Linked DNA regions of Homo sapiens. The protein of the gene in region 1 binds, or shares a complex with, the protein of each later gene. Links are inferred from orthologs where the notes say so. Each region holds a gene or a part of one and is shown on either strand. Other genes may lie near its edges.

Region 1 (7,737 bases):
ATGGCTGATCCACCCATAGATCTGGTGATAGTAACCAGGAGCTCCAGTCAATAGCACAATGGCAGAACTCAGAGCTACAGCCCATCCATTTTTACAAGCGCTCAAGCCATATTATGTAAAGCAGGCGGAAGGGGGCATACACTTTTCTTGAGGATGAAAATGAATGCATTTAGTAATGAAAATGCATAGTGTGGTATTTAAAAATTACATGAGCTCTGGAATCAAATAACAAATGGTTCTGCCTGAGAGACCAGAACACCTTCTTTCACTGATTTTTTTTTCCTTCCCATCCCTGAAACAGAGCCTTGAACTTTGAAACCACAGTACCTTGTTCCAGCGTGGAAAGCAGCGTGGCACTTCCCGGTGGTGAAAGCACCCCAGCTTGAAAGGGTGAAAACACCTTCTCCCAGATAGTCTCCCTTTGTTTAGCCAGTGCTTTTGCCTTAAGGAAATCAAATGAAGGTATGCTCCTTGGTTGGCTGCTGAATCTGTCCTTCCTTGTCAGCTTTGCCCAGAGCAGCAGGCTTTGAGCTCTGGGAGGATTTCCAGGTGGCAGCAGAACAACGGTCCCATAGGCTGGAGCCTGGCACGCTTTCCCTTTTAACCAGTGGCAGAGGCTGCACTTTGCTGGTGTAATTATGCAACCTAGTGTAAAGTCCACATGGGTGGGGATAGGGGGTAGGCAAGGCAGGACTGTAAGCTGGCTCAGCACTCTGATTGGGTTTTTTGACTGTTTTTCTAGCTTTTCTTACCCTTTTCTCTCCTGCCCCCTCATCTCCTCCTCTTCCCTCCTTTTCCCTCCCCTTCTCTCTAATCCCTTCATCTTTGTCAGCCTCCACCCTCAGGGATCCCTAACTCAGGAAGCTACCTCTTATCAAATATTTTGGCTTGCCTCCAACTGCTAGTGGCAGGCAGTTCTGGCCCTTGTCTGCTATCTGAGCGATTTTCTTCTCCACCGGTTGTTTATTTCTCTAATCTAGTTGGAATTGGAATCGTGTGTAGAATCCAGAGGAAGAAAATCCAAAAGCAAAAAATGGATCCTTTCCCTAGTGAGATTGCCCCTGTGGGCTAAAATAGAAATGGAAAGAGACTTGGATTCTTTTCCCTTGAAAAGTGACATTATGAAAGAGCAGGAGAAACAGCATTAGTGTACAGGAAAGCCCAAGGCACACTATATCACTCCTCAGATATTGGACATCACTCTGAGTCCTCTATTTTCTGCTTAATTGGGATTATAAATGCTATTTTTGCCCCGAATGTACCTGCCATCTTGGTCGTGCCCAAGTGGCTCTGAACAGATACCATCTGCAGGACCTCCACAGCCAGCCATGCAACAGGAAGCTGCAGACTCCCAGACTCCAGTGTTCTTGTTTTCTGAGAGGGAGCCCTGAGAATGGTAGAGAAGCAAAAAACACAGGAAAGAAAAGAAAAAAGCTGGATGGAGTAATTACATGATAGGGTTACCTTGTGCACGTGAAAGCAAAATGTAGGGATACAAGCAATAACCCCTCCGGTACTGCACAGTCTTTGATAACACAATAGCCTTCTGTTATTTCAAGGCATGTTCCTTGAAACCTTCCTTAAGGTTTTCCCACTACTTACTGGGTTGTAACATATTTATTTTATATGTCCTTTCTTAACTGATATTCACAAAGAATAGGAATGATAGATGTGTGTATATGAGCAAAAGCATTTATACATGCTTTCTTTTTTTTTTTTTTTTTAGTGTATGAAATAGCGGCTGACTTTTGTGACAATTTTCCACCCAGTTTTGTGATAGTAATTTCGCTGCATTCTTCAACTTAGATGGCAAGTCCTCTTAGCAAGGCTGGCCTAATTCTATGTTTTCTATGGCACCTAGTCACTATGGCTGTGCAAGAGCCATTATTACCCAAAGTACCATAATAATGGTCATGTCCTCCTATGACGTTATTGTTTCCTATCTGTCAGGACATTAATTGTCTTCTAACTTGCTCTAAAATTGGTAGCATGGCACACTGCCAAGACTAGAGAGAAGCAAGCTGCTGGTGATATATTAAAAGGCTGTGTAAAAGGACATATTGGTATTTGCTTTTTCTTGGGGCATCTTCACATTTGCATTACTTCACATGTTATGGGATGTTAGCTCAGGCTTGCCTTATGTCTTGGCGTCTATCTTATCATGGTCAATGTCTGATCTTTCCTTCAGCTGAATGATTCAGACATCTCTAAGTTATTTTGGCTTTTCCACTTTCCTTTCACAGGCTTTTTGTGAGTCATTGAATTGAATGGGAGGTTATTTCTAAATTGGAAGGTGAGGAAGAGAGGAGGGGGAGGAAAGTTCCGGAAAATAACTAGGAAAAGGCACTTTATTGTTATGTATAGTTACTGGAGGAATAATTTCTGCTTAGTCTGGTGATAGAAGTATGTACTTTATTTAAACTTGACTAAAAATATAGGCTAGAAAAAAGACAATATTTTTCTGAATAATAAACCATACAGTTTTAGACTCTTTGTAGCTTGCTCTGCAAAGAACAAGGAGGTTAGTAAATAGAAGAAATATGAGACAAAGGGTTAGCAGAAAGAAGAAAGAGACAAAGCACATTTCCAAAGTCCACATCCTTGAGGTGAATGCCTCCTTGACAGTGTCTTTTTTTTTTTTTTTTTTTAAGACAGAGTCTCACTCTGTTGCCCAGGCTGGAGTGCAGTGGCACCATCTGCAGAGACAGGGGTTTCACCATGTTAGTCAGGCTGGTCTCAAACTCCTGACCTCAGGTGATCTGCCCGGCTCGGCCTCCCAGAGTGCTGGGATAACAGGCATGAGCCACCGCACGGCCTGACAGTGTCTTAAACTATCCCTGGGTGTTGTTTCATGGCCCATGGGTATATGTATCATAGGTGGGGTTGTGAGAAAGTACATTTAAATCTGATTTAGAAACTGAAAGAGTAATCAGACCAGCATTTTGTTATTTAGGAGCAGGAAAAGTGGGTGAAAAAAAAGGAAAAACAAAAAGCTAATGATGAATATATTTCTAGGAGCACAAGAGTTTTTATAGCAACATTAGATTTCTCAAAAATGCCTACTGTGATTTGTACCCAAGTGAATAAAAAATGCAATCATTTATTCTTGTGCATTGTGCCAAGTGAGGAAAAAAAAAAAACACACACACACACAACCCGGCAATTCATTCAATGGCCCTAATTTAGACTGCTAGGAAGAGGTTTAGAAAAAAAAAAGAGAGAGAGAGAGAGAAGCTTTTAAAGTATCTGACACACAGCTAGTAGGGCTATTTAAGAACTGCTGAACAGAAAAACAAAGTGGCAGTGAGAGGTGGGGGAAAGCAGAATTCTCATTTCCAGAGCATCATAAAGGGTATAATGTGGCCCGCTTATTAGAAAGTTGCTGGCCGGGCGCGGTGGCTTACGCCTGTAATACCAGCACTTTGGGAGGCCGAGGCGGGCGGATCACCTGAGGTTGGGAGTTCGAGACTAGCCTGACCAACATGGAGAAACCCCGTCTCATGCCTATAATCCCAGCTACTCGGGAGGCTAAGGCAGAAGAATCGCTTGAACCTGGGAGGCGTAGGTTGCGATGAGCCGAGATAGCACCATTGCACTCCAGCCTGGGCAACAAGAGAGAAACTCCGTCTCACAGAAAAAAAAAAAAAAAAAAAAAGTTGCTAATGGCTGTCTGGTCAATTGGCAGGGGTCAGCCAGGAGTGGATCTGGAAGCTGGAGAACTCTCAATACGCCACTTCAGTTTATTGACGACATTTATAATTGCAACCGAAGTTGACTGATTTCTGCTAAATGAAAGTTTGCGCTTTGCCCTTTAGCATTGAGGCTCCTGGAAAGAACTTCAATGAAATTGGATGCATTGAGACCAAAGAAAAGAAGGGGACATTTTTATCTCTCTGATACCTTTCTCCCCAGGGCTTGGAAACACTTCTTAAACACAACCTCTAATGTTGGTGTTTTGTAAGTACTACCCCTATGAATAAAGCTAGCAGAGATAAGCTTCTCCTTGCAGGAAGTGAGCTGGAGAAGTGGAAAAGTTTACAGAGAAAACTCTACAACAAAGACTTAACCCTTCCCGGGTAACCACGAATGTGAGCGTCTGCCCCTCCTTTGCTTTCTACTGCGCAACCAAACTGTGCACAAGCGTGAATCAACCTTAACCGTCACGTCTCTTGCCAGTTAGCTTAACAGACACTTTTAGCAGCCTATCATAACTTCGAATTGCCCAACCCTCAACCAATTACAACTAAAGCTTGGGCTAGGACGCTCCAGGTCCGGGCGGGGGCGAATACCGGGTTTAGGAAAAGGGGCGGTAAAGAGCGATGACGGGCGGGTATACTAAACCAATCAGAGAGGAGAGCTGCCGCCCCACTATCCAATGGATAGGTTAGAAGTATGAAAGAGGGTGGGCCTGTTGTCATGGGGGAGGTGGTGGCGCTTGGTGGCCACTGGCGGCCGAGGTAGAGGCAGTGGCGCTTGAGTTGGTCGGGGGCAGCGGCAGGTGAGTGCCGGTAACGCGGGTCAGAGATCTGGGGGCCGTCGCGGGGCGGAATCTCCAGCTCAGCACTCCGGAGGCGGAGGCCGGAGGAAGGGGGCCTGGACTTCGGGTCGGGGCCCGGGCCGGGGCCGGGGCCAGGGCGGAGGCGGCGGGGGCGGCGGCGAGTTCGCGCTGACTGGGCTAGGGGGAGAGGGGCTGGGCTTCTGGCTGCGGAGTTCTCCCGAGGAAGGTAGGCTACGGCCGGACCCGCGCGGGTCAGGCCAGGAGGTCCCTTGGGACGTCCAGCTGCTCCGGTCTAGCGCGCTGACCGGCGGCCACTGTGTGAGGAGTAGGTATCTGAGGAAACGGAAGCGGCCAGGGTCCCAGAGAGGGGGTGACCTGTAACGACCTGCTTCAAGGGCGGGGTGTCTTGGGAATACCCAGGACGGCTTGGGTGCCAGGGAGAAAAGGAATCCGGGAAGCCCGGCAGCGGCCGGTGAGGAGAGAGCGGGGTGGGGGGCAGGGGAACTGGGAGTGGCCCCGGTCCGAGGGAGGTAGGAAGGCCGAGGGTGGCCAGGGTCCCGGGTGACAGGGAGCAGACTTGCTCCAAGTAGGGGCGTCTGAGGAAACGCTCGGAGGGGGTTGGGGACCCTCCTGAGAAAAGCGGCTGTCCAAGGGAGGGGGCTCCTGGAGAGATGAGGAGCAGCAGGTCTTCGGAGGGTCGGACGAGTAGAGATCTTGCACCGCCTGGGGGAAGAACCGGAGCTCCCTGCGCCCCCATAGCTGAGCTGGGATGGGAGACCCAACTGGCCTGGCCGCTCCGGCTCTGAGGATCCCTAAGGGACCAGGAAAGAAGTCCTCGAGGAGTGGCTCGCGTTTGAGACCGGGGTGAGGAGCCAGCAGGGGAGTGGAAGTTCCCTCGGTCGGAGAGGAGTCATGCAAAATGGGACGGAGATGGGCGGAGGTGGGAGAGAATCCCTATAGGAGGGGATAAGGTAGAGAAAGAAAGTTGCCCGAGGAGAGAGTAATGGTTTCGTGGAACTGGCTAGGACAGTAGATATATGAGAAATTAACAGTGGAGCCATGTAGGTTCACAGGTCTTCACAAATAGAAGAAACTTCAGTTTCGTAATTAATATCAAGATGACATCTAGGACCAAAGCAAAGCTCCTAAAAGCAAGGTTAAGTGACTTGTTTTAGAAAAGAAATTTGTTTTAGGATGATGGCAGTAATATTAGGAAATAGGTTCATTGACAGGGTGGGGAATTTGGGAGGGAAAAGGGGAGGAGTAGCTGAACTAAAGGAGTAGAAGTAAATACTTATCAGAAAGAGGGTAGGCATACTCGGCTAAAGTGAAAAGAAGTTTTGAGTTCTAGTTCCACCACTTAGCTAAGTTTCTGTGCAGTTTCCTCATCAGAATACTAATAGTAATAGTTCCTACTTTATAAGGTGGTGGTGGTGTTTTTTTTTTCATGTGAGTTGGTATTTGTAGAGCTTTTAGGATAGTGACTGGCACATAGTCGTGTGTACTGGATTGTTCAATAGACGATAAAGACCTGACTTCTTAAATAGAAGGTAAAGACCTGGCTCGCAGATGTTAGCTTGCATCAAAATCACCTGGAGGGCTTGGTAAAATGTAGATTGCTTGGCCCCACCTGGGGGTTTCAGTAGGTCTGGGGTGGGGCCCAATAATTTATATTTATCTCAAATGATGATCACGTTGGTCAGAGGACCACACTTTAAGAACCACTTACTTTAATGAAACCGGTAATAATGGTAGCAACTTTAAAATACCTGCTAAAGAGACAGGTAGAGGCAAATTGCCTAAAAGATCCTATTATAAAGGATACTCATTTTTAGCCTGTGTTTTTCAAACTGTGGATTGTGATTTATTAGTAATTTATAAAATCAATGTTGTGAGTTTTTACCTGCATTGAAAATAAAATGTAGAACAGAATAAACTGACATTGCATTTGGTAAGGAAAAGTATTGTTTTGGGAAACTTTTCTCCTACATGTATGTACTAGGTCACAATGTAAAGTGTATTTCTTTTTTTGAGTTCCTGGCCAAAGGATAAAATATATTTCTTACAGTTAAAAAAGTCTGAAAGCTGGGTGCGGTGGCTCACGCCTATAATCCCAGCACTTTGGGAGGCCAAGGCGGGCGGATCACTTGAGGTCAGGAGTTCAAGATCAGCCTGACCAACATGGTGAGACCCCCATCTTTAAAAAAAATACAAAATTAGCTGGGCGTGGTGGCGCGTGCCTGTAATCCCAGCTACTTGGAAGGCTGAGGCTGGAGAATTGCTTGAACCCCGGAGGTGGAGGTTGCAGTGAGCCGAGATCATGCCATTGCATTCCAGTCTGGGCAACAAGAGTGAAACTCCATCTTAAAAAAAAAAAAAAAGGTTTTTTTGGGAGTATTATATTCCATTAAATTTCTTCAGTTTCTGATTTGGTTCCTCCTGTGTTTGTCTTGTCACATATTGTGTTATGCCTCTGACTCTGGAACTTTTTTGGATATTGAGAATCTTTGGCATGAGAACTTAAGGGAATCTGAGGCAGAGAAATTGAATGGTGTTTCTCAGATGTTGTCCGCTTTTGTTTCACTTGTGCCCTCTTGTTCACCCTTTCTTTTTTATCACTGTACCGTAAAGCATTGTTTGTAAAAGCCTGAGTATACACAGACATATTGACAGTAAACAACACTGAAATGGACTGACTTGAGAAAATTTCATGTATAGAAAATAAGCAAAAACAAAGTAAGAAACACTGCAAAAGAGAAAAATGAAAAGATATTTCCTTTTTAGAGAGTAAAAATATTAAGTATTTCTTATCCTTACACTAATATAAAACATATACAGATATTTTTAAAGGAACTAGATATACAGTTTCTAGGTCTTTGTAGAGAAAAGAAATAGTGGTAATATGTGACAGCAAAATGCACCTGGGATAGAGGCTTAACTACAAAGTAAATCATTTATTAAGAGGGAGCTTTTGTTTAATGGTTTTCTCCCTTGAGAATAAACTGGATGTGGTACATGTTGTAAACTTAACTTGTTTGAGGAACCTAAATGTAATTTACAGCGTGTTTTTAAAAAGAATATGTATGTTTTATCTGTACGTGGTTTGATTTTTCTTCCATTGAAAGCTAGATGGTTTATATTTAGGAGTTGATTTAGATCTGTTTTTATGGCTGTTAAGAACAGGAAGCAGTATTGAAAACTGAAAGAGATCCTTGCAGCTTTCTTTAAAATCTTTAATC
Region 2 (3,595 bases), on another chromosome or scaffold:
TGCTGAACCTAGTACGACAAACTGGATAGTTTAAAATAATAAATGTATTCTCTCATAGTTCTGGACGCTAGAAGTTTGAAAGTGAGGTGTAGGCAGGCCACGCTCCCTCTGAAGGCTCTAGGGAAGAATCCTTCCTAGGCACTCTCCCAGCTTCTGGTGGCTTCTGGCAACCCTTGGTGTTCCTTGGCTTGTAGATGCGTCACTCCAGTCTTTGCCTCCACTGTCACATGGCATTCTTCCTGTGTGTGTGTCAAAATCTCACTATCCTTATAAGGACACCTGTAATTGCACTTAGGGCACACCCTAATGTCCAGTATGACTTCATCTTAACTAATTACATCTGCAAAGACCCTATTTCCAAATAAGCTCACATTCACAGGAACCTAGGGTCAGAACTTCAGCGTATCTTTTGGCGGGGGATACAGTTCAACCACTGCAAAGTCTAATAATGCTCTTCCTACTAACTGCATAGCTAGTTCACTTGTAGTTGGCATCATGGAGAACTAAGGGAAGTTAAAGCTTGTGAAATTTAACTCTTCCACTTAAAATAATTGATGCTTCCATCCTTGATGACCAGAGTTTCCTGTGAGGTAGGTCAGAGTACAACTTCCTGCTGAGTAGCTGTGCTTCCTTTCACTAGGAGCTGGGGGTACTTTCATGTCACTTATGAATTGTTCTTCATTTTGGTTTGGGAGAGGGCTGGGAGTATCAGTTAGGGTTCCATGTGTAGCCACACAGGGCGAAGCTCTGGCCACTGGATCTGTGTGATGTTCCATCTGATCTGTGAAGCCCCACCATCTGTTAATGTGTATTTGAGGAGTGGTTGGTTCTTTCCAGAGTATAAAGCTGGAAGCAGAGTCTGGAACACTTCCAGTCTGTTGTCTTTGAACATTTGACAAAGGGACCGTACGATCTTACTGTTCAGAGTATCTTTTTTTTTTTTTTTTTTTTCTTTTGAGACGGAGGCTTGCTCTGTCGCTAGCTAGGCTGGAGTGCAGTGGCACGATCTGGGCTCACTGCAACCTCCGGGTTCAAGAGTTTCTCTTGCCTCAGCCTCCCAAGTAGCTGGGACTACAAGCGCGTGCCACCACGCCCAGCTAATTTTTGTATTTTTAGTAGAGATGGGGTTTCACCATGTTGGCCAGAATGGTCTCGATCTCTTGACCTCATGATCTGCCCGCCCTTGGCCTCCTGAAGTGCTGGGATTACAGGCATAAGCCATCGCGCCCGGCCTGTTCAGAGTATCTTTTGCAGAATGGCTGAAGCTCGAGGTTTTCTTCTTCACCATTATGTACTGCTGCTGTACAACCTTTTCATAATTATCCTTAGTCCCATTCCTCTACCAAGGTGAAAGCAACATCTTATCAGACCCGAATTATGAATTTCTCAAGCCCCTATGATTTTCTGTTTTGGGTGCCAAGTATTTATCTCTTCTGTTAGACTATAGTCTTTCTTCACATAGGGTTCATGTCTATATTGGTTTTATCCATGGGTGGTTTTTATTCTCCAGAGTGACTGACCTGTTCGTAATTCCGTTCTTGAGAAGGATTGTTGATTATGTTGAAGGGAAGGCTTCTTACCAAGATTTTCAGATTTTGCTTTCAATGTTTATCTTTTTGGGGTTTTGCAGGTGACAGAGCTGAATGAACCTCTCTCCAATGAAGATCGAAATCTCCTCTCTGTGGCCTACAAGAATGTGGTTGGTGCCAGGCGATCTTCCTGGAGGGTCATTAGCAGCATTGAGCAGAAAACCATGGCTGATGGAAACGAAAAGAAATTGGAGAAAGTTAAAGCTTACCGGGAGAAGATTGAGAAGGAGCTGGAGACAGTTTGCAATGATGTCCTGTCTCTGCTTGACAAGTTCCTGATCAAGAACTGCAATGATTTCCAGTATGAGAGCAAGGTGTTTTACCTGAAAATGAAGGGTGATTACTACCGCTACTTAGCAGAGGTCGCTTCTGGGGAGAAGAAAAACAGTGTGGTCGAAGCTTCTGAAGCTGCCTACAAGGAAGCCTTTGAAATCAGCAAAGAGCAGATGCAACCCACGCATCCCATCCGGCTGGGCCTGGCCCTCAACTTCTCCGTGTTCTACTATGAGATCCAGAATGCACCTGAGCAAGCCTGCCTCTTAGCCAAACAAGCCTTCGATGATGCCATAGCTGAGCTGGACACACTAAACGAGGATTCCTATAAGGACTCCACGCTGATCATGCAGTTGCTGCGAGACAACCTCACCCTCTGGACGAGCGACCAGCAGGATGAAGAAGCAGGAGAAGGCAACTGAAGATCCTTCAGGTCCCCTGGCCCTTCCTTCACCCACCACCCCCATCATCACCGATTCTTCCTTGCCACAATCACTAAATATCTAGTGCTAAACCTATCTGTATTGGCAGCACAGCTACTCAGATCTGCACTCCTGTCTCTTGGGAAGCAGTTTCAGATAAATCATGGGCATTGCTGGACTGATGGTTGCTTTGAGCCCACAGGAGCTCCCTTTTTGAATTGTGTGGAGAAGTGTGTTCTGATGAGGCATTTTACTATGCCTGTTGATCTATGGGAAATCTAGGCGAAAGTAATGGGGAAGATTAGAAAGAATTAGCCAACCAGGCTACAGTTGATATTTAAAAGATCCATTTAAAACAAGCTGATAGTGTTTCGTTAAGCAGTACATCTTGTGCATGCAAAAATGAATTCACCCCTCCCACCTCTTTCTTCAATTAATGGAAAACTGTTAAGGGAAGCTGATACAGAGAGACAACTTGCTCCTTTCCATCAGCTTTATAATAAACTGTTTAACGTGAGGTTTCAGTAGCTCCTTGGTTTTGCCTCTTTAAATTATGACGTGCACAAACCTTCTTTTCAATGCAATGCATCTGAAAGTTTTGATACTTGTAACTTTTTTTTTTTTTTGGTTGCAATTGTTTAAGAATCATGGATTTATTTTTTGTAACTCTTTGGCTATTGTCCTTGTGTATCCTGACAGCGCCATGTGTGTCAGCCCATGTCAATCAAGATGGGTGATTATGAAATGCCAGACTTCTAAAATAAATGTTTTGGAATTCAATGGGTAAATAAATGCTGCTTTGGGGATATTATCTCTGTTTGGTCTTGATTTTTCCCCCCTCGAGGAACTGTTTAACCAGTCACAAATTGTGGTTTGAATCTCTCAAACATGGAAGCATTTGTAGTACATTATCCAAGTTTTCCTCCCCTCTCATTACATTACATATTTTGCAGCACACACATAGGATTCATAGATTTTAAATAGTTTTCTGTGAACCCAGCTAACATAGCCTCTCTGATCAATTTTCCTGATAACTGGTGCTTTTTAATGAGCCTCGCAGAACAAAATGCAGTCTTCCACAGTATAGCACCTCTGAAACATTGTGGGCTCTGTTGAACTTGAGAGTGTATTTAACACTGAAGGTAAATACGGAGCTTATACACGTCCTCAAGTTTTCTTAATGTAATAAGATACTAGGGGCACAACTTGCACCCCTGAAATCTTTAGTGATTATTGTTAAGCATTTAGTATTCTTTAAAATAGAAAAGCAAACCTCATTGAGTTAAAAAGCCTAACCTACCCCTTAAACAC

Evidence for each region.
Region 2: the proteins of NUMB (region 1) and YWHAH are in contact, whole or in part, in a crystal structure (PDB 5YQG), measured with the Mus musculus proteins. The link is inferred for Homo sapiens from one-to-one orthologs. Residues at the interface, in NP_001129547.1 of Mus musculus: Gln274, Gly275, Ser276, Phe277; in NP_035868.1 of Mus musculus: Arg57, Arg132, Tyr133, Leu177, Asn178, Val181, Glu185, Ile222, Leu225, Asn229.

The regions. Positions count from the first base shown.
Region 1 is NC_000014.9:73,455,254-73,462,990, reverse strand, and holds the start of NUMB (protein numb homolog), read left to right. Parts: upstream 1-4,444; 5' UTR 4,445-4,498; intron 4,499-5,257; exon of another isoform or gene 5,258-5,362; intron 5,363-7,737. UniProt on the Homo sapiens protein: Regulates clathrin-mediated receptor endocytosis. Plays a role in the process of neurogenesis.
Region 2 is NC_000022.11:31,954,509-31,958,103, forward strand, and holds the end of YWHAH (14-3-3 protein eta), read left to right. Parts: intron 1-1,630; coding exon 1,631-2,284; 3' UTR 2,285-3,095; downstream 3,096-3,595. UniProt on the Homo sapiens protein: Adapter protein implicated in the regulation of a large spectrum of both general and specialized signaling pathways. Binds to a large number of partners, usually by recognition of a phosphoserine or phosphothreonine motif.